2 linked regions of the Homo sapiens genome follow. The protein of the gene in region 1 interacts with the protein of each later gene in a biochemical or structural test. Each region holds a gene or a part of one and is shown in the gene's direction. Other genes may lie near its edges. The genes, in order: STK38 and HERC5.

Region 1 (15,882 bases):
GTTTTGGGATTATAGGTATGAGCCACTGCACCCGGCCTGGAATTACTATTGGAATTATATTGACTCTGTAGATCAGTTCGTGGAGAATCGACATCTTAACAATATTGAGTCTTCTGTTACATGGACATTGCAGATCTCTGTTTTTCTTGTTGTTTGTTTGCTTGCTTGTTTGTTTGTGTGTTTGAGACGGAGTTTTGCTATTGCTGCCCAGGCTGGAGTGCAACGGTGTGATCTCAGGTCACTACAACCTCCGCCTCCCATGTTCAAGCAATTCTCCTGCTCCAGCCTCCTAAGTAGCTGGGACTACAGGCACCTGCCACCACCGTGGCTAATTTTTTGTATTTTTAATAGAGACGGGGTTTCACCATGTTGGGCAGGCTGGTCTCGAACTCCTGACCTCAGGTGATCCACCCGCCTCCTCCCAAAGTGCTGGGATTACAGGCATGAGCTACTGCACCTGGCCCATGTCTCCATTTTTAAGGTCTTCTTTAGTTTTTCTCAACAGTGTTTTCATAATTTTTAGTGTGTGCATCTTACATGTCTTGTTAATCTATTTCTAATATTTGGGGGTTTTCTGGATGCTATTTAGAATTTCACTGTCCAGTTGTTTGCTGCTAATATATAGACATATAACTGAATTTTGTATATTGATCTTGTATTCTGTAACTTTCTAATTAGTCTAGATTTTTTTTTAATTTGCATATTTAGGATTTTCTATGTAAACAATCTTGTGATATTCAGGTAGAGACAGTTTTACTTCCTTTTCAATCTATTCACCTTTTTTTTTTTTTTCCTTGCCTTAGTGCACTAGCTGGGAATTCCATAAAATGTTGAATAGAAGTAGTGGGAGTGGATATCTTTGTTTTCTTCTTGATTTAAGAGCAAACGTGCTCACTGTTTTACTAAAGATGCCCTTTATAGGTTGAGGCAGTTTCCTTATGTTCTAATTTGGGTTAAAAAATTTTTTTATTGTTTTTTTTTAGAGACAGGGTCTTGCTTTAACCCAGGTTGGAGTGAGGTGGCACAATCATGGCTCACTGCAGCCTTGACCTCCTGGGCTCGAGTGATTTTCCCACCTCAGCCTTACGAGTAGCTGGGAATATAGGTATGTGCCACCACACCTGGCTAATTTTTTTTTTACCTTTTTGTAGAGACAGGATATCACTATGTTGACTAGGCTTATCTTGAACTCTTGGCCTCAGGCAGTCCTCCTGCTTCAGCCTCACAAAGTTTTGGGATTACAAGTGTGAGCCACTGCACTCAGCCTATGTTCCAATTTGGCTGAGGAGCTAAGAATTTTTATCATGAGTAGGTGTTGAATTTTTTCTTTTTATTATTATTTTTTATTTTTGTCATTTGTTTTGATTTTTTTTGTGGGTGTTGAATTTTTTTCAAATGCTTTTTCATCATCTCCATAATGGTCATATTGTTTTTCTCCTTTATTCTTTTAATATGGTGAGTTACATGGACTGATTTTTGAATGTTAGACTAACTTTACGTTTCAGGGGTAAAACCCTCTTGATGACATTGTATTATCTCCTTTATGTTGCTGGGTTGATATGCTAATATTTTGATAAGGATCTTTGCAATCCTGTTCTTCATGAGGGTGTAAGTGATAATTTACATGGGATATATAATTTGACCTTAAATATGCAGTTCTGTATGTGGAATAGTCAAATTTTTTATGCTTGGTGGTGGCTAGCTGCTGTTCACTGGAGTAAACAAGTGTCTGCACAGTGTCCCGTGTTAGGATCATGGGGAATTCAAACGTAAATCTGTTCAGAATATCTTTAGGCAGGTGAAACCTGTGGAGACAGTTATTTCAAATACAGTCACTTCTTGAAATCATAGCTACTGGGGTTGTAATTATAAAGCAAATGGTTATGAGTTTTGATTTAGCCACTTGTTTAGTAGTAGTCCTCTGGGTTTTATCCTACTGGTTCTGCCCTAGCTATGGTTTATTGTTGGTATGTATCACGTTCTGCAGGAACAAGATGATGTATGGTTTTATTTACATTATTAATAAATGATACATTGTGATTAACACTAAGATTATACCCCAAAATGAGCAGACAGCAGTGCTTTGCATTCTTTGGATTCTTAAGATAGAAAAGCCTTCTAAAAGTTTCAGTGGTTCCAGAAGCAGTGAGGGTTATATAAAAATAAACAAAATTTTAAAAATACAGCATTGGTGGTTTTGCTTTTTTTGAAAGACCAAATTAATCAAAAGACAGAAGAGAATGTTAGATATTTAAGAGGGTTAGAATGTTTGTTTTTGGTTGCTTATCAAATTGCCATTATTTTTCATTAAAGAACAGTAAGCCACGTGTGGTGGTGTGCACCTGTAGTTCTAACTACTCAGAAGGCTGAGGTGGGAGGATCTCTTGAGCTCAGGAGTTTGAGGCTGCAGTGAGCTATGATTGTGCCACTGCACTCCAGCTTGGGCAACTGAACAAGACGCCATCTCTTTAAGAAAAACAACAATGCACTAGTACTTTCAGCCTTTCAGAATTAATATATCCTTGTAGATCTTTTTTTGTTGTGTACCCCTTTTTTTTTTTTTTTTTGAGATGGAGTCTCACTCTGTTGCACAGGCTGGAGGGCAGTGGCGCCATCTTGGCTCACTGCAACCTCCTGGGTTCAAGCAATTCTCCTGCCTCAGCCTCCCGAGTAGCTGGGATTACAGGAGCACGCCACCATGTCGGGCTAATTTTTGTATTTTCATTTTGTTTTTGAGACGGAGTTTTGCTCTTTTGCCCAGGCTAGAGTGCAATGGCATAATCTCGGCTCACTGCAGTTGCTGCCTCCCGGGTTCAAGTGATTCTCCTGCCTTAGCCTCCCATGTAGCTGAGATTGCAGACATGGACTACCATGCCTGGCTAATTTTTGTATTTTTAGTAGAAGCGGGGTTTCACCATGTTGGCCAGTCTGGTCTTGAATTCCTGACCTGAGGTGATCTGCCCGCCTCAGCTTCCCAGAGTGTGTGAGCCACTGTGCTTGGCCTAATTTTTGTATTTTTAGTATAGATGGGGTTTCACCACGTTGGCCAGGCTGGTCTTGAGTTCCTGACCTCAAGTGATCCACCCGCCTTGGCCTCCCAAAGTGCTGGGATTACAGGTGTGAGCCATCACATCCGGCTAGTACCCTCTTTTTTGTATGAGCTGCTAGTAGGTTTTGGATTTACTGATACAGCTCAATAAGACTTTCAGGCTTTATTGTTCCTAGAAAATTTTTTAAAAAGTGATTGACAAGAGTTACCTCAGAAGTAAACTAAGTTGGATTGTGAGAAACAAGGTTTAAAACCTTTTTTTTTTTTTTTTTTTATGCAGACAAGGTCTCACTGTGTCACCCAGGCTGGAGTGCAGTGATGTGATCATGGCTCGCTCACTGCCGCCTCAAACTCCTGGGCTCAAGCCATCCTTAGCCTCCCAGAGTGTTGGGATTACAAGCATGAGCCATGATTGCCTGGCCTGAGTTTGCAACCTTTTTGATGTTCTGGAGGGACACATTGCAGGACCTTGATAAATAAACAGTTTTGATGATATGAGATAATTGATAATGAAGAGATAATATATGATGGAGGTTTGAAATAATAAGTATTGGGCTAGTAAATTTTGAGACCAAGTTGTAATACAAATTTTCATTTTTTTTATTTTGTGTCTTGTCTAGGTACCTTTAAAATATCTGTTATTCCTAGCATTGCTATGCAACTCTTTCCCTGTTCCATCATAAAGAACACTAGTTTATAGTTGAAACAAAGGGCTTACTGCAAGGCCATACGTGTCCAAAGCCCAGAGATAGAAGAAAGAATAAAATTCATTTGGGAATTGTTTCCTGTGTAAACATAAAATATGATAATTTTGAGCAGTTTCATAGAAACAATATAGTAGCTTCTACAGATTGGTTTAAAAATAATTAAACCCCCTGAATCTAGTGTCCATCACACAGTGCTGCAGAATGCCACCTGATGGTCTCCTGTTAATACCACTGTTAGATCATAAGCACTCAATAGGGCAAGTGCATCTGCTCTATTCCTTCAGTCTGTGTTTTGCCTTCAATGGCAGCTTTGGTTGTGACCTTCTCTAGGAGCAGCAGCTCTCTTTGTATTCTCTCTGTATGTGATCCTAGGTACCTAGTAGGTATTGACAGTTGTCTACTTTTTCATTAAAAAACAATGTTTTAGATAATTCATAGCAGTTTGAAATCAAATCTGAAGAAACCGGCATTTCTTTTTACAAAACATTTTCAGTTGTTTCTTTTCTTCATGAATACTAGTTAGGTGGATTAATTAAAACCATAAACACCTAATTTAATAGGTAATAATGGTAAGCTTTTTTCTTCCCAAATCAAACAAAGTCTTTCATACATTTTACTGAGAATTTCTATGTTCTGCAACTCCTCTTAGATTTTCTCATCTATGTTTTCTTAACTGGAGAAATTCCTCATTTGGTCTTATCTAATACTAAGTAGAAATATGTGATTATTATTAGTGATCCAGTGTCAGTTTTATTTAAGCCTCAAGAATGAGTAAGTCCAGACCTCCTGATGTTCTTCACTGACCAGATATCAAACCAGAGTGTAGAACTGAAGTAATTTGTTGAGATTTTAAAGAATCTGTGTAGTGTTAATTTTAGGGTATTTCTGGCTGGGTACAGGGGCTCACACATGTAATCCCAGCACTTTGGGAGGCCGAGGTGGGTGGATCACTTGAGGTCAGGGGCTCAAGACCAGCCTGTGCAACATGATGAAACCCCGTGTCTACTAAAAGTACAAAAATTAGCCACACATGGTGGCATATGCCGGTAATCCCAGCTACTCGGGAGGTTGAGGCACAAGAATCACCTGAACCCGGGAAGCAGAGGTTGCAGTGAGCCGAGATTGTGCCATGCACTCCAGCCTGGGTAACAGAGCTAGACTCTTGTCTCCAAAAAAAAAAAAAAAGAAAAGAAAAGAAAAAAAGGAAAAAGGCCGGGTGTGGTGGCTCACGCCTGTAATCCCTGTACTTTTTGAGAGGCCAAGGTGGGTGGATCACTTGAGGTCAGGAGTTCGAGACCAGACTGGCCAACATGGTGAAACCCCATCTCTCCTAAAAATACAAAAATTAGCTGGGCGTGGTGGTGGGCACCTGTAATCCCAGCTATCCGGGAGGCTGAGGCAGAAGAATCACTTGTACCCGGGAGGCAGAGGTTGCAGTGAGCCGAGATAGTACCACTGCACTTCAGCCTGGGTGACAGAGTAAGACTCTTGTCTCAAAAAAAAAAGTATTTATTAGACATTTTCTGAATTTTAATCATGGAGATGTAATCACAGCCCTTTCCCCTCCCCCTCCGCTCCCCTCTTCTCTTCCTGACAGAATCTCGATCTGTCGCTCCTCTTCTCTTCTCTTTTCTTTCTGACAGAATCTCGCTCTGTCACCCAGGCTGGAGTGCAGTGGCACGATCTCAGCTCACTGCAACCTCTGCCTCCCAGGTTCCAGAGATTTTCCTGCCTCAGCCTCCTGAGTAGCTGGGATTACAGGCACGTGCCACCACGCCCGGCTAATTTTTGTATTTTTAGTAGAGATGGGGTTTCACCATGTTGGCCAGGCTGGTGTCCAACTCCTGGCCTCAGGCGGTGTGCGAGCCTCAGCCTCCCAAAGTGCTGGGATTACGGGTGTGAGCCACCATGCCTGGCCCTATTTCTGTTAAATACACTATTTTTCCTGGTTTTCAGTGTCTCACCAAAATACTGTCTGTTTTCAATTAGGGTGGAATAGCCCTATTCTCTCATCCCTGCTACCTCCAAATCAGGCTATGCCAAGAGGGGACCCTAAATTAGATTAGAAAAGGGGGCTAATTGTAAGTAGTAGTCATGAATGTGTCTGCACATTGCTATACATTCTGACTTTTTAAAATTTAGCAGCATACATTTAGAAAGTAGCTGTGTACAAAGCACTATTCTTAGTGGACATAGGGAATTCAGATATAGTCCCTGCCTTCAGAAGGACTTACCACTCTCTCATATAAGAAATGAACACACACGCAACTAAATGGAACACATGGAAGGCATCACTGGGGTGAGGCTGGATATGGCCTCTAAGTGTGAAAGTGGCTTCGTCTCTCTCCTAGGGTTCTGGTTTTGAACATTGGAATTGAAGGGAAGAGTGGCTCCACCAAGGGCTGGAGTGTTAGTTAACCTGGCACTGCTACCAGAGAACATGCCTGTGTGGAGAGTCCTGCTATTCTTTTTCATTATGAACAATTTTAAACATAGGTGGAATAATATAGTGACCCCGTTTCAATATATTCATCCCTCAGATTTAATAATTTTAGGGCTTTGGTACATTTTCTTCATCTATCCCATTTTGTTTTTTCTTGCTATTGTGTTTTAAGGTAAATTCCAAACATCTGTCATTTTAATCCTACATACTGTCAAGTATGCATTTCCAAAAATATGGCCATTTTCTTGCATAATGCAAATGCCACCATGAATCTAACCAAGTTAACAGTAATTCCTTTGATGTCATCTCACAGAGGATGTCATTTTTAAGTCTCATTTCAGGCTGTCCTTGCTGTTTTTGGTGTCCTCAAGGTCTTTGTGGACCTGGTCCTAATTGTTATCATGGATAGGCTTTTTTTTTCTGGATACTTTCTCTAATGAAATAATCTGATTGTGTTCAAGGAGTTAACTTCACTCTCAGGCAGGTATTCTGCAACCAATTTAATTACACTTCAGTAAACCTGTGGAAAACCTCTTAGTTTGTATTTAGGTTTAAAATATAATTAGAAGGAGCCACTTTTGTGACACAGTGGATAGTGCATTGGACTGGTAGCCCATTCTGATGTAGTCATTCAAAAACGTGTAGTCAGGACGTATGATGGTGTTTAGTACTCAAGGCACAAAAAGAGCTGACCACAGCTGTGTTCTTAGAGCTTTTGCCTAGCATGTTATGCTTTGACTTTTCTTGTTCTTCTCTGCTTCAACTACCTAACCACTTGCAATGGAATTAATTTACACTCCCGAAACTACTAAGAGTACAGCCTTTTCTCTCTAATACATGTGCACGCATAGATGCACATGTATCCCAAAATATTCTGGGAACTGGGAGAACTGTTCGTGTTCCTCTCTCTGTTTCCTGTCTTGATTAGTGGCATCATATCCCTCTAGACAGGAAATTCTAAGGTTTTTCTCTTGACTCCTATTGCCAGTTGGTCATATTTGCAATAGCTCTATTCACTTCATTCTAGTTTTCCTGCCCTAGTTCCAGATCTTTACTGTACATCTGAATCATTACAATAACTCTCAACTAGCCTCTTTCTCAGTTGCTTTCCCTGCCAGTCCATCAGATCCTCATTACTGCTGGTTACCATTCTAAAATAGAAATCTTATCACATCACTCCTTTGCACACAAGCCTCTTTTAGCACTCAGTTGTCTACAGAATGAGATCCAACCTTCTTGGTGTGGCATTTGTAGTGCTGTGTGCGTCAGCCACAATGGACTACATGCTATTTCTGCAGCATACTGTACACTCTTTTTTTTTTTTTGAGATGGAGTCTCGCTCTGTTACCGAGGCTAGAGTGCAGTGGTGCGATCTCGGCTCACTGCAAGCTCCGCCTCCTGGGTTCACAACATTCTCCTGCCTCAGCCTCCCGAGTAGCTGGGACTACAGGCGCCGGCCACTACACCTGGCTAATTTTTTTTTTTTTTTTGTATTTTTAGTAGAGATGGGGTTTCTCTGTGTTAGCCAGGATGGTCTCGATCTCCTGACCTCGTGATCTGCCTGCCTCAGCCTCTCAAAGTGCTGGGATTACAGGCGTGAGCCACCGCACCTGGCCAGCATACTGTAGTCTTATCCTTCTTTGCTCTGTTTGTACACATTGCCTGTTTATCTGGAATGCTGATGAGTGGTGGAGGAGAGATTCTAGCCCATGTGCTTTCATTTATTGTGCTGAATAAATGAAGGTTCTGTGGAATTGGTTGTAAGGAAGTTTTACTTGCTTCTTTTAGTTTTATGAGACTATAGATCAAAAACATTACTGCATGTACTTTCTAAAGTTCAGTATTCCAAAAGTTTGATGTCTGAAGGTTTTTTTTTTCTTTGAGGCAGAGTCTCACTCCGACATCTGAGCTGGAGTGCACTGGTGTGCTCTCGCCTCACTGCAACCTCTGCCTCCCAGGTTCAAGTGATTCTTGTGCCTCAGCCCCTCCCAAGTAACTGGGATTACAGGCACCTGTCACTATGCCCAGCTAATTTTTATATACATATATGTGTGTGTGTGTGTGTGTACTAATATATATACATATATTACATATATGTGTGTGTATATATATGTGTGTATATATACGTATATACATATGTGTATATGTATATATGTATACATGTGTACATATATACATATGTATACATGTGTATATACATATAAATATATATATATATACATATATTTTTTTTTTTTTTTTTGAGACGGAGTCTTGCTCTGTCACCCAGGCTGGCATGCAGTGGCGTGATCTTGACTCACTGCAACCTCTGCCTCCCAGGTTCAGGCAATTCTTCTGCTTCAGCCTCCTGAGTAGCTGGGACTACAGGCGCTCGCCACCACGCCTAGCTGATTTTTGTATTTTTAGTAGAGACAGGGTTTTACTATGTTGGCCAGGCTGGTTTCGAACTCCTGAATTTATGATCCACCCTCCTCAGCCTCCCAAAGTGCTGGGATTACAGGCGTGAGCCACCACGCCCGGCCTTTTTGTTTTTTTTGAGACAGGGTCTCACTCTGTCACCCAGGCTGGAGTGCAGTGAGTGGTGTGATCTCTGCTCACTGCAGCCTCCACCTCCTGGGTTCAAGTGATTCTCCTGTCTCAGCTTCCCAAGTAGCTGGGATTACAGGGTATGCCACCATGCCTGGCTAATTTTTGCATTTTTAGTACAGACCAGGTTTCACCATGTTGGCCAGTCTGGTCTCGAACTCCTGACATCAAGTGATCCACCCGCCTCGGCCTCCCAAAGTGTTGGGGTTACAGGCGTGAGCCACTGCACCTGGCCTAATTTTTATATTTTTAGTAGAGATGGGGTTTCACCATGTTGGCCAGGCTGGTCTTGGACTCCTGACCTCAAGTGACCCATCTGCCTCACCTCCCAAAGTGCTGGGATCACAGGCGTGAGCTACCACACCCAGCCTGATATATGGAGTTTTGATAGTGGTGCCAGTCACCTTTTTGATCACTTTTTCCCCTTAAATTTCCAAATTCTGCTTTTAACTTTGTTGTTTGTTACCCTTTCCTCATGGCAGGGAAGAGGAGGAAGATGCAGAAATAAAGGAAGTAGACTTCAGTCAGAGAGAGGGAAAGAAACAGCATGATATAAGAGTTTATCAAATACCAGCTGTTTTGTGGTTTGGTAAGGAGGAAATAACTGGAAAAAAAAAAAAAAAAAAACACCCAAAACCAAGAGAGGACATTTTTTTGAAACAAGAGTCTTTGTTGCATTAACATCTTAGACAGTCTTTTAAAAAATGTAGACCTAAGGGCGGGGCATGGTGGCTCACACCTGTAATCGCAACACTTTGGAAGGTCAGGCTGGAGTTTGAGACCAGCCTGGGCAATATAATGAGACCTCATTTCTACAAAAAATTTAAAAATTAGCCAGGTATGGTGGCACGCGCCTGTAGTCCTAGCTACTTGGGAGGCTGAGGTGGGATTGCTTGAGCCTGTGAGGTGGAGATTTCAGTGAGCTGAGATTGCGCCACTGCATTCTAGCCTGGGTGACAGAACAAAACTCTGTCTCCTCTCCTCGCAACCTGCCCCCCTCCCCCCGCCAAAAAAAAGTAGGCCTAACAAAGGATGGAAATCTTTTTACTTGTCTTAGTAACTTAATTTTTTTTGTTTTAATGAGACATTTTGAGATTTACCTGTTTGTGTCATTTTTAAAAATCTACTACAGTATTAAGTTACAGAATTTTCAGAAAGTTATCATTCAGATGTGATTTCATGTCTTTTGTTTTTGTTTGTTTTAGACAAAAGAAGTTAGAAAAGGTGATGGAAGAAGAAGGCCTAAAAGATGAGGAGGTAATTAATATTGGCAATGTTTTCCTTAAAACCCAGCGTGGCAGGTTGTATCTTGTCCAGTGAGTTGTTAGCCTTGGTACACATGAGAAGGGTTTTGGCTCAATAACAGAGGAACTTGAGGGGTAGTGTGCTTCCGGATTTGGGTGTTAATTCAGAGGGACAGATTAATTATTAAGTACCTAGGAGAGGAAGGCTTCTCTAGATGCAGTTATAGTAAACTAGATTTAGAATTCCAAGAGAAAGCAGGGATGAAATCAAATTAAATTTTAAAAGAGCAAGTTGTAGCATTTTTATAGAATTCACTGAAAAGTCTCCGTAGGAGTAGGGCAAATTTTTGAAATATTTATTTATTTTACTTTTTCTGGGATACATACGTGTGCTGAACATGCAGGTTTATTACATAGGTATATATGTGCCATAGTGGTTTGCTGCACCTATCAACCTGTCATCTAGGTTTTAAGCTCCGCATGCATGAGGTATTTGTCCTAATGCTCTCCCTCCCTTTCCCCCCATGCCCCGACAGGCCCCGGTGTGTCATGTTCCTGAAATCTTTATTAAGGCAAAATATCCATCTCAAATCAGCCCTTCCACCCAGTGCCCACAGATACAGTAGGAGAAAATATAGTTAACAAGGGACTGTGCAAGGAACTGAAATGGTAGTGGAAATGCCTTCAAAAATAGGACTGGCTTGCAGAACCCAGGACGGTGGTGAAAAATACCCAATACTTGTAGAAATAACAGAAAGTTAGAGTATACAGTGTTTAAGCCAGAGGGAAAGATAAGAACACATTTTTAATTTATATTAAACAGGATAAAGGAAAATATTGTTGATTATTTATCCCTCCCTTCACCAAAAATGTTAGGATAGTGGATTGCTGAAGTAGGTTAGTCAGAGTTCCCAGAGGAGGCACCCATCTGTTCAGTGTGGCTTGGATGTTGTGTCTAAATGCCAGGAAAGGGAGAAGTGACCTCTTAAGGATCCTTCTGGGGTGATTTCATATGTGAAAAGATTATCCTTAGTCCACTTGGACCTGTTTTCTAGCTGGGTAAGTCACAAACATGACTTGTTACAGAGTTTCAGAATTTCAGTTCCTTCCCGTCTCCTCCCTTTTTTATTTAAATATTAGAAACGACTCCGGAGATCAGCACATGCTCGGAAGGAAACAGAGTTTCTTCGTTTGAAGAGAACAAGACTTGGATTGGAAGATTTTGAGTCCTTAAAAGTAATAGGCAGAGGAGCATTTGGTGAGGTAAAAATCACAGCTACTTGTCAAGTAGAAAAATATTGCAAAACTTCAAAGCTTCTAACATACCATTAAGTCATGATTGTTGATATAACAAATATATGGAATTAAATGAGTCAGGCATGCCAGCCCCACATCCTAATTGCTTTGTCTGTCTGCTTTCTCTTTTTCTTCTCTCCGCAGTCCCAGATCTCTGTTCTCTGTTTTGCCAGAGATGGTGTTGGTGTTTAAATATTGACTTAGGGGGAGAGTTGAAAGGTAGAAGGAAATCAACATTTATTATTTACAGGCTGCTTTTTTCCCATAATCAGGACAGTAACCCATTTTATAGATGGTGAAATTAAGACTCTAAAGGTATATATAATGTCTCTTGTTATCACACAGCCATTGAGTACTGGGACCAAAAGTTGGGCTCTACTTCCTGAACTCAAAGAGCTTGCTTTTCCCAGTACTGCACTGCCTCTCGAGAAGGAAACTAATAGTGTATCTCCACCCTTTATTTCTCCCCACCAGATTGATACAGCTCTAAAAAGATGACCCTAGGAGGGAGGATTTACAGAAAGGAGTTATATAGGTAGTGGTGGAGAGTTGAAAGCATTTGCGACTTTGTCCCCGCAATTCTTGGAAATGATCCTGCTTGGGCACAAGAGCAATCTGTTGGGGAGAGCTTGAAAGAGCCCATGCAAGGTCATTCCTGTTAATGAAAAATGCCCAAACTGGATGACCTACTGACGCAATAATTGCAAGTATAAAAGGAGCAGTATATTATTAAAACCTGGTACCCCGGGGCCAGGCACGGTGGCTCACTCCTGTAATCTCAGCACTTTGGGAGGCCAAGGCGGGCGGATCACAAGGTCAGGAGTTCGAGACCAGCCTGACAACATGGTGAAACCTTGTCTCTACTAAAAATAGAAAAATTAGCCGGGTGTGGTGGCACGTGCCTGTAATCCCAGCTACTCAGGAGGCTGAGGCAGGAGAATTGCTTGAACCCAGGAGGCAGAGGTTGCAGTGAGCCGAGATTGCACCATTGCACTCCAGCCTGGGTGACAGAGCAAGACTCCATCTCAAAAAAAAAAAAAAACAAAAAACCTGGTACCCCGGGGAAATGTGAATAGTATTCAGAGGCACAGGTGATAGATTGATCCCTCAGTGTTCAGAATTCCTATTGGCTTCTTGAAAGAGGGAAAAGTATAGTACCACCTCTGAAAGAGCTTTCTGTTTGGCAAGGAAGGGTTGTGGTACTCAATTAGGAAAAACATGAAGAAAGGTTCAGGGAGAAGAAAACCTACTTATTTTGGGAGAAGAGGGGAGGACATGCAGGAACTTGCAGTGAAATTTTTCTTTTGGTTGTAAATTTTCTTCATAAAATTATCTGTTTTCTTTAAGAACATTGGAAAACATAAAAGAGAAGGAAAACTACATAAAACACAATTTCCCTAATTACACATTTTGAATTTTCTTCTTCTTCTTTTTTTTTTTTTTTTTTTTTTTGAGACAGAGTCTTGCTCTGTTGCCCAGGCTGGAGTGCAATGGCTTGATCTTGGCTCACTGCAACCTCCGCCTCTCGGGTTCAAGTGATTCTACTGCCTTAGCCTCCCGAATAACTGGGATTACAGGCACCTGCCACCACACCCAGCTAATTTTCGTATTTTTAGTAGACGGGGTTTCACCAGGTTGGCCAGGCTGGTCTCGAACTCCTGGACCTCAGGTGATCCACCTGCTTCGGCCTTCCAAAGTGCTGAGATTATAGGTGTGAGCTACCGCGCCTGGCCTGAATTTTTTGTTTTTCTTTCCAGACGTTTTTCCTAAGCATGAAGTTTTACTTTGTTATTATTATTATGATTAAGTGACAAGGTTTCACTGTGTTGCCCAGGCTGGAGTGCAGTGGCTGTTTACAGGCACGATCTCACTACTGATTGGCATGGGAGTTTTGACCTGCTCCATTTCTGAACTGGGCCTGTTTGCCCTTCCTTAGGCAACCTGGTGGGCCCCCCCTCTGCCACCCTGCTCCTGGGAGGTCACCATATTATGCTGAACTTAGTTCAGACACCTGATCAGCATAATGCACCATAGCTCATAACTCCTGAGCTCAAGCGATCCTCCTACCTCAACCTCCCAAATAGCTGGGACTACAGGTATACACCACCATGCACAGCTACTTTTGTTTTAATTAAACATCATTGTAATCATTTACTTAGATTTTCTGAGCTGACTGGATGACATGTGTCAGAGGTGTAACGAGTCCTTAAATTTGAAATTGAAGGTTTTAAATTAGATTGGCTTGTTCAACTAAGGAACCAAAGCTGTTCAGATGTAGAGGTATTTGAGGATGTTTCCAGCATCGACTTTACTGTGTGTAATGTATTCATTTTGGAACACTGAAAAGCATTTTCTTCTGCTTTGTTATTACTAGTTGCTCATGTTAAAATTGTAATACTTTTTCAGTTAATTATTGCATCCTATAACACATGAAAGCATTAGGTTGGTAGTACGAGTTTTTGACTTGGCATTTCTTTTATAACTTTTTAGGTACGGCTTGTTCAGAAGAAAGATACGGGACATGTGTATGCAATGAAAATACTCCGTAAAGCAGATATGCTTGAAAAAGAGCAGGTAAAGCACAGTTGTAGCAGTGCTTTTAGCTTATTAATTTTTGTCTCCTAAAACTTTTCTTTTTGTTTAATTGAAATATATATTTTTATTACAGTTTTCTTTAGCTCTGTCATGTATGACTATATATATAATACTACCTTTTTCCCCCTACAAAGAAGCAGTTCATATTTAAAATCACAAATAATGCCTGTAGGTTATATGCAATCTTTTAAAAATTGAAAATCTGTTCCAAAAGCAGCTCTTACTTGTGTCTTCCAATTGATCACAAGATGTCCTTATTGTGAGAGCCTTTTTTTTTTGAGGTCGTACGTGGTGTGGTAGTGTGTTTCTTACCAAATGCTGAGAAATAGAAATTGTATATATATCTCATAACTAAGGACTAGGAATTAGAATTTGGAATTTATAATCTAAAATGTGTCTTTATATGCTTCATTCTGTTTACCTAAACCAAAGTTGAGTCTTCTAGGTAGCTCATCGGTACCTGAAAAAGACCAGCCTTCTAATTTCTGAATGAATTTGAAAAATACAATGCAAATGACAGAACAATGCAAATTCTCCTTTAATGATAAAGGATACTTTCTAAAACCAAAACCTGGTTTGCAAATCAATTTATAAAGTGCCTTATGCAAAATAAATAAGGTTTTAAATATTGGAAAGTATATTTTAAAAAGCAAGAATAGACTTTCTATAAATCTAGTTTAATGTAGCTGGTTGCTTAAGAAAAGATTGCAGTGGGTGATGACCGCAAATGTCCTGTAAAAGATTTGATGTTATAGGAACATGGAGACCCTGTGACAAGGAGAACTCCTAATTTAGGGCCAAAGAGGGGGGATGGAGATTGGCCCCACATCCAATCCTTTCTACCTCTTGAGAGGAGATATAATCACTGGTCTTCCCTGTCTTCATTTAAATGCCACCCCAAAATTTGGAATTTTTATTTTCTCTCAAATTTTCATGTGTTACCGAGAAGCTTTAGACTCCCAGGAATTTCAGTTGGGAGTATCAAATACCTGGGCGGTAAGTCTTGAGACACTATAGTTTATGCTAACGCCAACCTTTTTCAAAATTCATAGTAGGCCGGCCTACTTACATACTATCTACAAATTAGTGTGTGGTATGGGTGTGTAGGCACTGAAAAAGTTTCAGTTAATCTTGAGAAGGAAAATATAAAGCTTCTGCATTAATTAGTATGTTTGCATCTCATGAGTAAGTTTTGTTTTTGCAAGGTATGTTTCCTACAGTTTTAACCAAGGCTTAAGACCTCTTTTTATTAAATATTAACTGTCAGAGTAATACTGCAAAACAAAGTACATATGATTTTCAGTTAGTAATTTTATGTATACCAGGTGCCCCGCATGGTTTCTAACAGAGGATGATCCAGACATAATGTGTAAAAAGCCTTTTCGCAAATATTGTGCCTTCAAAATCACTTTCTAAAACTTTCCTAAATGAAAGTAAAGAAACTATTAGAATTAACATTTTAAATGATGCATTAACTTATGGATTAAATGGTACATTAACTTAAATTGTTTAGCTCACCTTAGCTGAGAACTCAACTCCTCAACTTAACAGATCTCATTATGAGCCAGTTAAAGTCTCTGGCCACAGACTCTACCTGGCTTAGCCATCTTGAAGAAGCATGCATTGGTTTTGTGCTAGATAAAAGATGGAAGTAGACCAGTGCAAATTCATCACCATTTTGGGGTAGGGCTGACAAAGTAGAGGTACAGAGGCAAAATTGTTTTTTTGTTTGCTTTTACTAAATAAACTGGGTAGGAATTAAAGCTACCCACTGAGAGTTCAGGTTATTTTTCTGCTCCACGTGGTGGAAATTTTTGCTACCTGGAAAAATTTAAAGGGTAAGACATGACATCTAACTAGCTTCTGATGTTTCTCTTCCAGTGCAAAAGGAAAACCTTCAGTTGTGATGCCAGTATACAGTTATTGATGGGACAAAAAACTGGCTTTTATTTCTGCTTTCTT
Region 2 (15,882 bases), on another chromosome or scaffold:
AGTGGGCCCCCAAGTCCCTTGTGGGCATGCCCAGACAAGACCCTGGGCAGGCTTCCTCAGCTGCACAAAAGCTTGTGAGGCAGGTCAGAGATTCTCCAGGGACCCTCCCTTATCTGCCTCCAGCATCTATCGATACTATAAAGAATAATTCATTTTAAATATAATGAAGACCAACAATTATAAAACTTCCAGAAGGTAACAAATGAGGAAATCTTATAATCTTGAATTTAGCAAAAATGTCTTAAGTAGGACAAAAAAGGTATGAACTATGTAAAAGAAAAAAATGGATAAATTACATCAAAATTGAAAACTTCAGTGCTTCAAAAGACACTTAAAATGAAGAGGCAAGCCACAGACAGGTAGAAAACATTTCAAAACGTATAGCTAATAAAGAACATGGTATGAAACATATAAAGAACTCAATAATATATAAAGAACTCTTAGATAAAAAGTCAAGCTAGCTAATAAATAAATGGTCAAAAGATTTGAATACACACTTCACAAAGAAGAGATCCTCCTGCCTTGGGCTAAAAAAGGGCTGGGGTTACAGGCAGGAGCCCAGGCCCAGCCTTGTCAGTTGATTTTCGGTGACCCTTCAGAGGGCAAAGGGGAAGTTTTCTCCTGTTCCCTACAACCGACAGGCCCATCAATTGGTGAATGGATAAATAAACTGTGGCTTACCCATATGATAGACTACCATTCAACAATAACACAAATGAATTACTAATTAAACACAATAGTATGAATCTCAAAGCATTGTGCTAAGTTAAAAAAGCCAGACATCACTTAGATATGGTTCCGTTTGTATGCATTCTAAAAAAGGCCTAAAGCACATCACTGTTGCCAGGCACCCGGGAATACGGGAATACGTAGCGGAGCGGGCACGAGGGGGGTGGGGGTGGGGGTAGGGGTGGGGGGGAGGGTAGCTGCCTGCATAGCTCTGCCCAGTTTTATGCCGGTTTCAGCCCGGCGCACAACGCATTTTTTTTTTTGATACATAGTCTCGCTCTGTCGCCCAGGCTGGAGTGCAGTGGCGCAATCTCGGCTCACTGCAAACTCCGCCTCCCGGGTTCCCGCCATTCTCCCACCTCAGCCTCCCGAGTAGCTGGGACTACAGGCGCCCGCCACCACGCCCAGCTAATTTTGTTTTTGTATTTTTAGTAGAGACGGGGTTTCACCGTGTTAGCCAGAATGGTCTCGATCTCCTGACGTCGTGATCCGCCCGCCTCGGCCCCCCAAAGTGCTGGGATTACAGGCGTGAATCACCGCGCCCGGCCGCGGCGCACAACGCTTAACAAACTTTGGCTTCCGTTATCCCTCCCTCTGGAAATGCGTGTGTCAGGGTGCCTCCTAGTGGAACTGCAGCGTTTCCTCGAAAGCCATTCCGTCCAGGAGTTAAGGTGGCCGCTGCCCGCCCGGGGACACTTTCTCAGTCCAGCCCATCGGCCTTTACCCCAGCCAACGACCTGTTGCCTTTGGCCGCCTGCCAAGTCACTCTCATTACAGTTTCCTTTTCCTTTTCGATTCCGCCCCCTAAAAACAACAACAAACATTATGTTTCGTTTTCCACTGGAGCTGCAGGCCCCGCCCCCAAACAGCACGTGGGGGGCGTGGCGTCCCGGCAGGGGCTCAGTAGCTGAGGCTGCGGTTCCCCGACGCCACGCAGCTGCGCGCAGCTGGTTCCCGCTCTGCAGCGCAACGCCTGAGGCAGTGGGCGCGCTCAGTCCCGGGACCAGGCGTTCTCTCCTCTCGCCTCTGGGCCTGGGACCCCGCAAAGCGGCGATGGAGCGGAGGTCGCGGAGGAAGTCGCGGCGCAACGGGCGCTCGACCGCGGGCAAGGCCGCCGCGACCCAGCCCGCGAAGTCTCCGGGCGCACAGCTCTGGCTCTTTCCCAGCGCCGCGGGCCTCCACCGCGCGCTGCTCCGGAGGGTGGAGGTGACGCGCCAACTCTGCTGCTCGCCGGGGCGCCTCGCGGTCTTGGAACGCGGCGGGGCGGGCGTCCAGGTTCACCAGCTGCTCGCCGGGAGCGGCGGCGCCCGGACGCCGAGTGAGTGGGGCTGGTGTGTGAGGGCTGTGAGGGCTGTGAGGGGTGAGGGCTGAGGGCTGTGAGGGGCGGGCAGCCGGGGGTCCGCGCCTGAGGGAGGAGAGCCCAGAAGGCCGCAGACGCGCGCCTGGCTCGGATAGTTTCGCCGACGGCGCACCTGAGCTGTCTTTTATCCCGGTCAGTGTCAGGCGCGGGGTGAGCGGGATACTGGCGACCAGCGGATCCTCCGCTCAGCAAAGTGGCCGGTGCGGGGCATGCGGGCACCGTCTTCATCCTTTTAGCCAGTCTGGCTTTCTCATAGGTTTCTGTTCAAGTTTGTACCCCCGTCCCCCGCCCGCCGCATCTCCCACTGTCTCGTTTTGAGAAAGTAGTCACTGCTCCAACTTTGGGAGTCGTTCTCAGTGATGGGATTTTACCTTGGCCTTCAGTTGCACTTCTCCCACATTCTCATCGAAGTGGGGGAAATAGTTGCCCGCGTTCTTTAAAATTTTGCCCATCTGTGGAGTGAAGAAATTGGTATCTTGCTGCGAGTTTATTTTGCGTTTAACTACTGGACGTTTGCGTTCCTTTTTCGGTAAATTGCCTGTTTATCTTTGCCTGGCTTTTAGAAATTTGAGTTGTTAAATCTTTTTCTTATTTGTATGGAAGAGGTATTTGAATATTGAATAAGAATAGCCTTTTGCACGTCGTACATGTAATATTTTTCTCACTTTGCCTTTTGTGCATGTTGTTTTTAGTGCATTTTTTGGGGGGTAGTCTGTCAATTTTTTTGTCTGTTAAGGCTTATGGGTTTTATGTTAGGCTGGAAAGCTATCCACACTCCCAGTGTTTTAAAAAATGTACTCATTTTTGTAGTAATTTTAAGGTTTTTTTTTTTAAGTTAAAATTTTTCGTACGCTTGGAATTTTCAGTACTGAGGTAGGAGGGGAGCTAGATTTATTTGCTTTTCCAAAGGCTTAGCCTATGTCCCAATACCATTTCTTAATACTTCCTTTTTTTCAACTGATTTGAAATGCTGAGACTCTTTAAAAGAAACCGTTAGTCTGCTGGACCATTTCTTATTACCAAACTGTTTTGGTTCCCCTAGCATTTGTAATATGGTTTGTGCTTTGAGATTTTTACACGAATAGATTCTATTTCATTAGCACTGAAGATGAAACAAGGTCCCAAAACTATCCTAGTTTAATTTTTGTGAACAAATTAAATAAGAGTACATTTTTACTAGTGGACAGTTTAATCTCTTAACTTCAGAAAGGGCCAAATGTGCACTAATGCCAATGAAAAATGTTTTCAACAGCATCCTCTTTAAAGATAGTCCCCCAAACATAATCCTTCCTTTTAAGAATATAGGCATTGGTTTCTATTGGTAACTGTCGGGAAGTGTTTATTACTGTTATTTGCTTTTTGGGAGAAAGGAATGTGTTTCAGAATACACTATTTGTTCTTGAAATGAGATTATGTTGTCTTAAAGTTATATTTTCTTATAGACCTTTTCATCTTTGTCATTTCAAATTTCGTTCGTCTTAATAAACAAGAACCTAAAAGCAGATATTTAATTGGATATTTTAAGGGTATGTTCCATTTACAACAAAGTATACATCAATATTTTTTCTAATTAAAAAAAATCTATGTCAAGACCGTTGTCTTTCCTGATTTGCTTTGCCTACCTGAATTTTCTTAAGAGAAGTTCATGGTAAGTCAAAGCTTGTCTAGTTGAAATTTTTCCCAGATGTTTTAAGTGTATTATAATGAAGTTAGTAATACAGTGGGTAATAATCAAAGTGACAATAGTTCCTGGTTGGATTTGCTCTGTAGAATGCATTAAATTAGGAAAAAACATGAAGATACATTCCGTGGACCAAGGAGCAGAGCACATGCTGATTCTCTCATCAGATGGAAAACCATTTGAGTATGACAACTATAGCATGAAACATCTAAGGTAGGGAACTTTTTTCTTTTATTAAAAATTAATTTTAATCAAAAGACAATAATAATTTCTGTAGGAAATATCTGATTCTTGTCCCCTGCTTTATATAGTAGCATCTTAAGTAAATAATAAATTCTGAACTGACCAGTAAAGTCCTTATGTCCCCCAGGGCAGGTATCATGTGTTGTTTTGGCATTTAAAGGAAATGATTAAATAGTCTGCCTAGCCCTAAATTGGACTTTCCTATTCATTAACTCATTTGATCCTCACAATAATCCTATAAGTTAAATTTCTGGAAATAAAAGTTTTTAACCTAGAAAAAATACACATTATCATGAAATAATTTGTGAGACTTTTCCCTAGTAGATTATATGAATTAGAACTCATTTTCATCTTGCATTTATTCCTGCATCCTAAAATTGTTTGCATAATATTTTATTATAATTATGTAATGCATATTTTTTCTTAATTAAAACATAGTATTTAAAAAATAATTTTAGATGTACTGAATGTGATGCAGTAAATTGAAAGTTTTTTCTTGAGCTTCATTTCTAATTAAATACTATTAATAGTTCTAAAATCCATGTTGTAACTTTCATTATGGTGATTAACACAAAGTGTATTTTCCTTCATCAGGTTTGAAAGCATTTTACAAGAAAAAAAAATAATTCAGATCACATGTGGAGATTACCATTCTCTTGCACTCTCAAAAGGTAATTTTTCTGTAATATTAATAGTTTTGTAGAAGTAATACCTGTGTGTATATGTGGAGCCAGTAGAATGTCTATATTTCACTTGTAACAGGACAGAAATACAGTTTTGAATTTGATATGGTTCCGAGTACGATTCTTAAAGTAAATACATAATGAGAGAATTCTTGGATCTGTAAAATGTTCAGGTTTCCAAAATTACTATTCCTAAATTTGGTTTCATGTTTTTATTTTTCAAGTACGAAACAGTGAAAATTTTCTGAATAATCAAAACTGTTTTCTCTACATCTGATCCAGGCCTGGGGCCACCCTTTTCCAGAAACTGCTTCCCTTTTCCTAACACCTTTCCAACTTCCACTCTTCCGGCTCAGAATCCCCTTTTGTGGCCAGGCTGCAGACCTCTGATACGTTTTAACATTGCTTTTGAATTCAAGGATCTCCCTAGCCCTGTAGTATTTCCCATTTTCTATCAGACACTGTCATGGTGGGAAATGGAAGCAGTGAATATGAATTATTTCCTAAAGAAACTTGACTATGAGGCCAGGCTTGGTGGCTAATGCCTATAATCCCAGCACTTTGGGAGGCTGAGGTGGGAGGATCACTTGTAGCCAGGAGTTTGAGACCAGCCTGGACAACATGGGGAGACTTCATCTTTACAAAAAAACTTAAAAATTAGCTGGGCATGGTGGCTTCCACCTGTAGTCCCAGCTACTTGGGAGGGTGAGGCAGGAGGATCCCTTGAGCCCAGGAGTTTGAGGCTGCAGTGAGCCATGATCGTGCCACTGCACTACAGCCTGGGTAACTGAGCGAGACCCTGTCTCAAAAAAAAAGAAACTTACTGTGAATGGAATAATTAAGATAGAAGTAGGGTAATAGAGGGGAATTCGAAGTCAAGGGAATTTTTGTTAATATATAGGACAGATGTAAACATGTTCATAAACTGAATAGAATCTGGGATTCAAGGGAAGTTAATAATTAGTGAGTATTTGACCTTCATTGCAAGGCCTGTTGAGATTTGATAGTATGAACTTGTATTGGAAGAAATTGATCATTTGACTTCATTCATTCATGAACAAATATTTCATATTATCTACTGTGTTCGGATTATGAAGATGAAACACACAAGCCCTGCCTTTAAGAAGCCCAGGGTCTAGAGGCGTGTATGTACAAGGGTAAAGGGATATTCAGAGTTTATTACTAGTAAATCACAGTACAGAAAGAATAAAAGTTGGGGAAGCAAGAAAAGAAACTGGTCATGCTCATCATTATATTCCTGGTGGTTGACAGGTGCATGAAAATTGTGTGTGAAGGAGAGGCTCTGCTTCCCACCACATCCTGCACAATATCTTGCAAAGAGATTCCAGTAAACCTTAATTCTCTGGTGTATTTTTTTAGACTCTATTAGATATTGTCAGCTCTATCAGATAACATCTAAGAACGCTCCCTAAAAAATGTGCTCCATATATTCAGTTAATGGAAGAAGAAACTGACTCGTTCAAGAAACTGTAATTTGAAATTAATTTTACAGTTGTTTATTTGGGATCTTGTAATTTCAAATGAATTTTACAGTTGTTTATTTGGGATCATTAGGCACATGAGAGAAAACAGTAGCGCTGGGGTTTTTCATAGAGGTAGATTGCTTCTGTTTTTCATGGGCCCGTCCTCTGAGTGTTTTAAAGTAAATATTTCTTGAATTTGATTTATAATCAAATTTATTATGTTGAAGATATTATTTAATATGTTCAAATAGCTTCACTTTTGAAGTGAGGGATAAGGAAGTGTAACTGTCACTGCTAAAGAGAAGATTCTGTGTTTTTCTGTGGCAGACATAGGGTAACTGAGAGTACCATCAGTGCAAAGGTACAATATTGTGATATTATACTAGGTAGAGCATGCATAATGCTTTAGGGTAATGTCTGCTGCATTTTAAATGGAATAAAACAGCATTTGCTTTGTTTATGTCAAGGTGGTGAGCTTTTTGCCTGGGGACAGAACCTGCATGGGCAGCTTGGAGTTGGAAGGAAATTTCCCTCAACCACCACACCACAGATTGTGGAGCACCTCGCAGGAGTACCCTTGGCTCAGATTTCTGCCGGAGAAGCCCACAGCATGGCCTTATCCATGTCTGGCAACATTTATTCATGGGGAAAAAATGAATGTGGACAACTAGGCCTGGGCCACACTGAGAGTATGGAACACATTCTCAGATTCCTATTACCAACAGATATACTTGTTAGATGAATTTAATGGACCTCCCTGTCAAAAATGGTTCAAATCTTCACTTTCATTTTCACTGCTCTTCCTGATTACCTCTCTGTCTTCAGGGCAGAATCAGTCCAAGAGGCATACATAGTGTGGAAGTTGTTACTGTAATTGAGACATGTTTCAGGGCTGTGTGTGAGACGGGAAAGGGCATTGAATTAGGGATGAGAACCTGGATTCTGATTCCCACTTTGCAGTTTACTAACTGCAAGCCTTGCCCAGTCACTAAACTTTTCTCTAGACCTCATTTTCTTTTTCTGTCAAGTGACAAGTTTGGATGAGATGACCTTTAAAGCCTTTGCACTTAAAGTCTGTTAGTGTATTATTACAAAAGAATACTAAAATTATATTTAAGAACTCACATATCCTGATCTTATTCTATAAGGTATCAATTATGTCTGTAAACACACATGAAGAAACATGTAATTTCCATTATTGAACAAAGCTGATGGTGAAATTTCTCATGATCCCAAACAACTCATTAAGAGTTTTCAGGTGTAAGAAATTCTGCTGCTTTACCCAGCTGTGGTACTGTATGCATTACCCTGGATCACTGGTTACTCATTTCTCCCTGACACAGTGCAATGGTCATTACACAGAATAGCCCATAAGTCAGTGTTAGAAAAATATTCAAAGGAGAGAAGAGAATAAAGCGGCCATTAAACTACTTTGGCTGAATCTCTGAGTGCTTTTGACATGAAAATAATCATGAAGAAAAGAAGAGGTAGTGTCAGGTGATGACACTAGTAGATAATTTGAAAGAAAGGAATTGCTATGTTCATTAAAAGTAATTCTAGATGGCTGTTGGAAATATCTAATGTGCTGCAATTAAAGTGAATCAAGTCATAACTGAGAACAGGCTTTGGGAAGTGGTTTGACCCTTTCACAGGTGGGTGCCCCTAAGTGTGATCCTTTTGGCCACTGGTCCCACCTTCACCCTGAGGCGTAGAACTTGATCCTAAACATGGCAACATAGAGCCTTTCTTGTCAGAATATCATGAGAACTGTTGTCGCTGGGTTGAGAAGCAGCAGTCCAGGTAACTCCACTGTGAAACTCAGCATTTCCTTTTGGTCACTTCAGCTATTTTTTTCCTTACATAGGTAAAGATGATCCATCCCTTATTGAAGGACTAGACAATCAGAAAGTTGAATTTGTCGCTTGTGGTGGCTCTCACAGTGCCCTACTCACACAGGTGGGTGTACCCTTGTCTCTTTTTGGCTGTATTTTTAGAAGAACAGTTTGTATGGGAAGTTAGTGTTTCCCAGAGAAGAAAGGTCATCACTTCCTGTATGTAGGACTGTCCTTCTGATATTTAGGAGCTTTACTTTGACAGTGCTATTTATTAGTGATTCACTTTGCATCAGTGAATACTACTTTTTTATTTTATTTTTCTAGCATCTGATATGACATTCCCTTTCCTTAGGATGGGCTGCTGTTTACTTTCGGTGCTGGAAAACATGGGCAACTTGGTCATAATTCAACACAGAATGAGCTAAGACCCTGTTTGGTGGCTGAGCTTGTTGGGTATAGAGTGACTCAGATAGCATGTGGAAGGTAAGTTGTAAAGTATCAATAAGAATTGATAAAATGAGTGCAGCAAACTAGATAGTAATTTAATAAAATTTCTTTCAGTTTCTTTGAGATGTATCAAACATTTTCAAATCAGTGAAAATGCTTAATTTATATTATTTAGATAAATGTAATACCCCTTTTACTATACATGGTTGTTTTCTTTGATTTTTTTTTTTTTTTTTTTTTTTAAATGAGCAGATACAATTCACTTTCTGCTGTCTCCTTAGTGAAATACCTTTGTAACTATTCAGGTGCACTTTTGTCTTAAAAAAACAAGTCATTAATTGTTTATTTGGGAAAAATAAAATGTAAATCACAAAGGATTATTCATTAAATGTAATCACCCTCTCTGACAATGCCTTGTGGCCAACATACTTTTTAATTACCAGAGTTCTTTCATTGTAGCCTGCCCTGATCACAGTAAAGTATAAGACATAGTCAGTGATGGTTTGAGTGAAATATTCCTAAGAAGTTTAATTTTCACAGCTCCTTTTTAGAAAAGAAAGGTAAAATGTCTTGCTCAGACTCCTTAGTTTATTTAAAGGTTTTTTGGTTTTCTTGTTTGTTTGTTTGTTTGTTTTTTGGTTTTTGGTTTTTTTTTTTGAGGCAGAGTATTGCTTTGTTGCCCAGGCTGGAGTGCAGTGACGCAATCTCAGCTCACTGCAACCTCCGCCTCCCAGGCTCAGGTTATTCTCCCACCTCAGCCTCTGGAATAGCTAGGATTACAGGCGTGCACTGCCACAACTGGCTAATTTTTAAATTTTATTTATTTATTATTTTTTTTTGAGACGGAGTCTCGCTCTGCTGCAAAGGCTGGAGTGCGGTGGCGCAATCTCGGCTCACTGCAAGCTCCGCCTCCTGGGTTCACACCATTCTTCTGCCTCAGCCTCCGGAGTAGCTGGGACTACAGGCGCCCGCCACCACGCCTGGCTAATTTTTTGTATTTTTAGTAAAGACGGGGTTTCACTGTGTTAGCCAGGATGGTCTCGATGTCCTGACCTTGTGATCCACCTGCCTCGGCCTCCCAAAGTGCTGGGATTACAGGCATGAGCCACTGCACCTGGCCACAACCGGCTAATTTTTGTATTTTTAGTAGAGTCGGGGTTTCACCGTGTTGGCCAGGCTGGTCTTGAACTCCTGACCTCAGGTGATCTGCTCGCCTTGACCCCTCAGAGTGTTGGGATTACAGGGGTGAGCCACCACGCCACTATTTAATTTTTTTGATTATCAGATATATCAGTCCACGTCTTGCCAGAGGGATGTTGGAAGTTGGTAGGATTAAAAAATATTTTCCCCCATATACACTTATTCTTTTGGGCAGTTTTTCCCTCACTAAACGTAGAGCAAAATTCAGACTGTATTTGAATGCTGGGTTCATTTGTTAGTTTACTGAAACCATTCTTATAAAAAACTAGCATGAATACTTTCAGTCTGTAGGCATATTTTCTTATGATCTTGGAGTAGAATTACATAAATGGGTAATATTATTAAGGTAGACCAAATTATCGGAATATGAGTCTCTTCACCAAAGAAGCGTTCTCTTCAATATTTATACCTCATTCGGTATCTCTTAACCAAAGCAGTCTTATCACCTCTTTGGATTCTTCATTACATACAGTCCTTTTGAGTAGCATGTATTACAAGAGAAGGAGGCAAGTTGGAGATCTGTCTTAATGCACATCAGGGCAATACCCCTACTAACAGGACAATTCACTGGAAAGACTCACGAACTTACTAAAAGCTATTATGCTCATAGTCACATTTATTACAAGAAAAGGATACAAACTAGTACCAGTCAAAGGAAGACACATAAGGGCAGGGTATAGGAGGGCTGCAAATGCTGAGCTTGTGGCTGTCACCTCCCCTTGGAGCAGGTGGATGGTGTTATCTCTTCTGGCCTGATAATGTGACAGGACATACAGAATTTGCCAGCCAATCAGAGAAATTCACCCAAGTTGAGAGTTGTTTTTGTTTTTTCTGGTTTTTTTATTTTGGAGACAGGGTACAGGATGTACATAATCTGCCATCTAGTCAGAGGAGTTCACCCAAGTCAAGACCAAGTCAAGAGTTGTTTTTGGTTTGGTGGTTTTTTTTTTTTTTTGAGACAAGGTCTCACTCTGTCACCCAGGCTGGACTGCAGTGGTGCTATCATGGCTTACTGCAGCCTTGACCTCCCAGGCTCAAGCAATCCTCCTGCCTCAGCCTCCTGAGTAGCTGGGACCACAGGTCCACCATGCCCAGCTAATTTTTAAATTTGTTGTAGAGATAGGGTCTCCTTATATTGGCCAGGCTGGTCTTAAACTTCTGGGTTCAAAGTATCCTACTGCCTTGGCCTCCCAAAGTGCTGGGATTACAGGCATGAGCCACCACACCCCACCTAAATTGAGGGGTTTTATTGCTGAGGCATGATTGGTTAAATCATTGCCCGGATAGTTAAACTTAATCTCCAGCACTGCCCTCCTGTAGGTCTGATTTACATCACAGGCCAGGAGAGCTCTCCCAGGATCCTGCCATGAATAATAAAGACTCTCCTCTATCACTTGGGGAATTCTGTGGGTTTAGAGGTTACCTCCTAGGAACAGGGCACCAGCCAGACCTCTCTGGGCAAGGCAGATTCCTTGCTACACAACAGTATAGTGGAATATACAAACCAGCAAATCAATAGGAAAATCAGTGTGGTAAAGGTCTTTGAGAAATTAAGTGGGAACTCAACTGAGTCTTCCAGGATGGAAAGTGAAGGGACTCAGAGATGGTTTCCAAGAGGTGGTGACTCAAACTGATGTTGAAAAATGAGCAGAGGGCAAGGGGAGGTGCTTGTTTCAACAAAGGGAACACCATTTGCCAAAGTATGACATCATGGTCTTGAGTGGCCTTTGGGTTCCAAAGTCTTTTCAGGTACATGTTGATTTCTTGGTTTCCAGATGATTTTCATCCTCTAAGAGATGTTTAGTTTCACTCTCACTGGGTAACATAGTTTTGGCAATTTACTGTATTGCTAAACACTCTCATCATTGTGGATAATTAAGAATTGACCATATGTGCTTTTATTTAATAGGTGGCACACACTTGCCTATGTTTCTGATTTGGGAAAGGTCTTTTCCTTTGGTTCTGGAAAAGATGGACAACTGGGAAATGGTGGAACACGTGACCAGCTGATGCCGCTTCCAGTGAAAGTATCATCAAGTGAAGAACTCAAACTTGGTAAATTCTATAGGAACATAGGGTTTGGCATAGTATCTTTTTAGAGAAAATGATTTTTCTAACTAGGTAATGTGGCAAAGAAAGCAACATATGACTATGAAGGGAGTTTCTCTAAATACTGGTTTCATTTTTTACTGGTAAACAATTCAAGAGTCAGTCTAATTTACTGAGGCAAAATAATTATTCTATATTACTCCTTCAGATTAGGATTAATGTGAATTTAAATGATAAAATAGACAATGGATTCAGAGGCATATGCAGCTCTCATTCCAGTTTGCAAGAGACTTACTAATTCTTGTAATTAGTTGTTTACTAATTCTTGTAATTGGCTGGTTGCCCTGGTTAAGTTGATCCACAGTCATATAAAACCCTCAGAATAATGAGCAATCAACGTATACCTGGCACTGAACTGTGCTCAGCACTTACTTGTGTTATCTCACCAATCCTTGTAACAGTTCCTGGGAGGTGTATTCTGTCACTCCTCTTTTACTGGAGGATAAAGAGACTTGGAGAGAAAAGGGTTAGCCACTTAATCATGGCCAGTAAGTGGTTTGTCTGGAGTTGAACCCGTGCCCTTTATGACCTCAGAGTCTGAGCTCTGAAACACTCCATTGTAGAAGCACCTTGGAGCATTTCTGTTACTTGTTTCTGAAAGCTTAGTGGTGACCTCAAGTAACAAAATCTACTCATTTCTTGTAGGAAAACGAACAGAGTTATTTCCTTAAGCAGCATGTATTATCTTTGATTCCTTATAACAGTTACATGGGCTTAAAGTACTTATATTCTTTATAGCCAGCAGTCATTGCTTAAATCTTGAAAACATGGTTTTTAGTAATGGGAGTTGAATTAAACTGATAACATTTAGCTAATCAAATATTTGCATTTTATATATAAATATTTGTATTATGTATATTAAACTGATGTCACATGTCCACCTTGTGAATTACCTATGTTTGCCAACTAGACTTTACTCCAAAGGATATGTATTTCAGCTGCTTAATTGGCAGAAAATGTACTAAGTTTTGTCTATTAAGAAGAAAAGATGACTACGTTTAAGAAGAATCTGAAGTTATTTAAATTGAACATGCATGTTTGTGCCAAATGACTTTCTAAAACTCTTACTCTTTGTGCATCCTTTCAGAAAGCCATACCTCAGAAAAGGAGTTAATAATGATTGCTGGAGGGAATCAAAGCATTTTGCTCTGGATAAAGAAAGAGGTAAAAATAGATCTCCAGGTGTTCTATAACCTGGTATTTTAAGCAAAACTAAGGGTTCTAGTATCCCAGTTTGGTGAATTCCAAAATCATCAGTTTACCAGGCTGACTTTTTGGGGGATAGCTGGACATTACTGATCCTTTATTGTCTAAACTACATCAGTATTTTCCCACAAAAATCAGCAGATTTTTCTCTGGTGAATGTCTAATCAGTGTGATTTCCATAGGCTATACTTACCTTTTGGGGGCTACTTGCCAATGATGTTTGGTCAGTATCCTTGCAAACAACAGAGTGACAGATTCTAAAAATGACTTTGCAGGCCAGTACTAAGAAAGACACCAAGGTTCATGGGCTTGCAAATAAAAAGTCCATAACTTCCCTGCCCTACTTCACCAAGTGAAATCGAGTTCCTCACACTTCTGCACACAGCTCTTTCAGGATCTTCCCTTCCCTTCAAGGCTGTCTGATGTTCAGTTTAATTTGATTGTATTTGTATAAAGTGCTGAGTGTTGAGTCCTCAAAGAAATTTACTTTCAGTCTAAGCCCCCTTGGACAAGAAAGTGGCAACCAGGCAAATGATTGATTACTTATTTGTTGAGTATCACTTTGTGATTGTCCCAGGGCTGTATTACACATATTTAAAAGTCAGTTTTACTCTCTAGAGTGTACCTAAAAGTTGGGTGCCTATCTCTGATGTGTCTAAATTATTGTATTTTACTTTCCTGTTTGTTTACAGAATTCATATGTTAATCTGAAGAGGACAATTCCTACTCTGAATGAAGGGACTGTAAAGAGATGGATTGCTGATGTGGAGACTAAACGGTGGCAGAGCACAAAAAGGTACACCCCACAGTCTGACTCTCTGCTTATATATCACTCTCAAGTATCATTTCCCAAACTGGTTCTGCACAGCAATATGAGATTTTGTAGTCAGGGTTTTCCAGAGAAACAAACTCATAGGATATGTGTGTATTTCTGTCTCTATCTTTATCTCTATCATGTCTGTCTGTCCATCTATGTATCTATGGAGGGGAGAGAGAGAGATTATTTTAAGGAATTGGCTTATGAGATTGTAGGGGCTGGCAAGTCCAAAATCTGTAGGGCAGGCCAGCAGGCTGGAGACTTGGGGAGGAGTTGATGTTGCAGCTCAAGTCTGAAGGCAATCTAAAAGCAGAATTTCCTCTTCTTTGGGTGACCTCAGCCTTTTCTCTTAAGGCCTTCAACTGGATGAGGCTCACTCACATTATGGAAGGTCCTTTCTTTTTATTCACTTGTTCAAGTGCTTTACTCAGTTTACCATTTTAAATGTTAATCTCATCTAAAAAAATACTTTCATAGAAACATCCAGAATAATATTTGACCAAATATCTTGGTACCATGGCCTAGCCAAGTTGACATATAAAACTAACCCATCACAACTAGCATGTAAGCGCCATGAGGACAGCTTTCTTTACTGTAGGGCTTCTCCAGGCCTCTGTTTATGTATATTGTGACTCTCTGGCCAGAAAATAGAGTCTATAGTGTTTCCCAGTCCCATTTGATCCTGGAACCATTAGTTTGTGTACCTGTTATTCTTAGCTGAACAATTTGTACCATTCTTCTCTAAACCATAGAACTCCTATAGGTTTACAGAACTCCTACCTATTCTTACAAACATCATCTTTTAGAAATATTTTTAGGTATGGCTTTCTAATTCTGGAAAATGATTGTACAAAGTAGTTGCACAAAATAGTTGCATCATAATTTGCAGAGCATAAATAATTAAGAACTGTACAACTACTTCTAAGATGAAACTGAGCATACTCCTTCCCCCATTTAATTTCTGGTAATTTATTTCTACTTCAGTGGAATAGAAATAAATAGGACTTGCATAGTTGGTGGGGTGGGAGTATTTTGTTTGTTCAAGAAAGTTCTGACCATAAATCAAGCCTTTCCTCTTTATTTGAGGCTTCTCTGAGTATGTATAAACTTTTTTATTTCCCATGTTTGCCACTGAAATTTTGAGATTTACCAAACAGAATGGACTTTTAGAAGCCAAGCCAAGGTAATATGCATACAGATAGGAGACAAATGGAGAGGTTGGAAGGATAGTTATAAGATGTGGTATTTATCATGTCTCATGCTGTAAAGAAAGAGGCTGTATGTATGTATACCATGTGATTTGGTTTAACCAGTGTCTTATTACTAATATAGGGAAATCCAAGAGATATTTTCATCTCCTGCTTGTCTAACTGGAAGTTTTTTAAGGAAAAGGTAATATATGTAATAAATTAATTGTATTAAATTGTATTAAGAGTACCGTGAAAGAGGATAAAAAAATGATTGGAGAGTAAAATAGCTGTGTGTTCATCCCTTTTTAAAAATTTTTTTTAACAAAAGTAAATATATGTTTGCTGTAGAAAATGTCAAAAATACACACAATAAAAAGAAAGTGAAAATCTTCCATAATCCATCACTTAAGAGTAATAGCTAGCACTTACGTATATGATTATATTTTTTCATGCAAATGTATTCTTTTAAAAAAAATGAGATCATACTGGTTCTTTGTTTTTTTCTTTTTTTTTTTGAGACAGGGTCTTGCCCTGTCGTTGCCCATGCTTTAATGCAGTTCTGTGATCTTGGCTCATTGTAACCTCTGCCTCCTAGGCTCAAGCAGTCCTCCCACCTCAGCCTGAGTAGCTGGGGCTTCAGACACATGGCACTACACCCAGCTAATTTTTGTATTTTTTTGTAGAGCCAGAGTTTTACCATGTTGGCCAGGCTGGTCTCGAACTCCTGAGCTCAGGCAATCTACCAGCCTTGGCCTCCCCAAGTGCTGGGATTTCAGGTGTAAGCCACCATGCCCAGCTGGATCATATTGTTTATACATTGTTTTCTACCTAATATTTGCCCATTTTACATTTTATTCTATCTTTTTTGGTAATTTTTTTTTTTTTGAGACAAGGTCTC

The links.
Region 2: the proteins of STK38 (region 1) and HERC5 form a complex in vitro, tested with the Homo sapiens proteins (one study listed by BioGRID).

Annotation. Positions count from the first base shown.
Region 1 is NC_000006.12:36,519,751-36,535,632, reverse strand, and holds part of STK38 (serine/threonine-protein kinase 38), read left to right. Parts: intron 1-9,990; coding exon 9,991-10,042; intron 10,043-11,169; coding exon 11,170-11,292; intron 11,293-13,815; coding exon 13,816-13,899; intron 13,900-15,882. UniProt on the Homo sapiens protein: Serine/threonine-protein kinase that acts as a negative regulator of MAP3K1/2 signaling. Converts MAP3K2 from its phosphorylated form to its non-phosphorylated form and inhibits autophosphorylation of MAP3K2.
Region 2 is NC_000004.12:88,455,488-88,471,369, forward strand, and holds the start of HERC5 (E3 ISG15--protein ligase HERC5), read left to right. Parts: upstream 1-1,631; 5' UTR 1,632-1,782; coding exon 1,783-2,047; intron 2,048-3,859; coding exon 3,860-3,983; intron 3,984-4,607; coding exon 4,608-4,684; intron 4,685-6,647; coding exon 6,648-6,869; intron 6,870-8,044; coding exon 8,045-8,136; intron 8,137-8,367; coding exon 8,368-8,498; intron 8,499-11,571; coding exon 11,572-11,717; intron 11,718-12,143; exon of another isoform or gene 12,144-12,219; intron 12,220-12,858; coding exon 12,859-12,935; intron 12,936-13,669; coding exon 13,670-13,773; intron 13,774-15,126; coding exon 15,127-15,186; intron 15,187-15,882.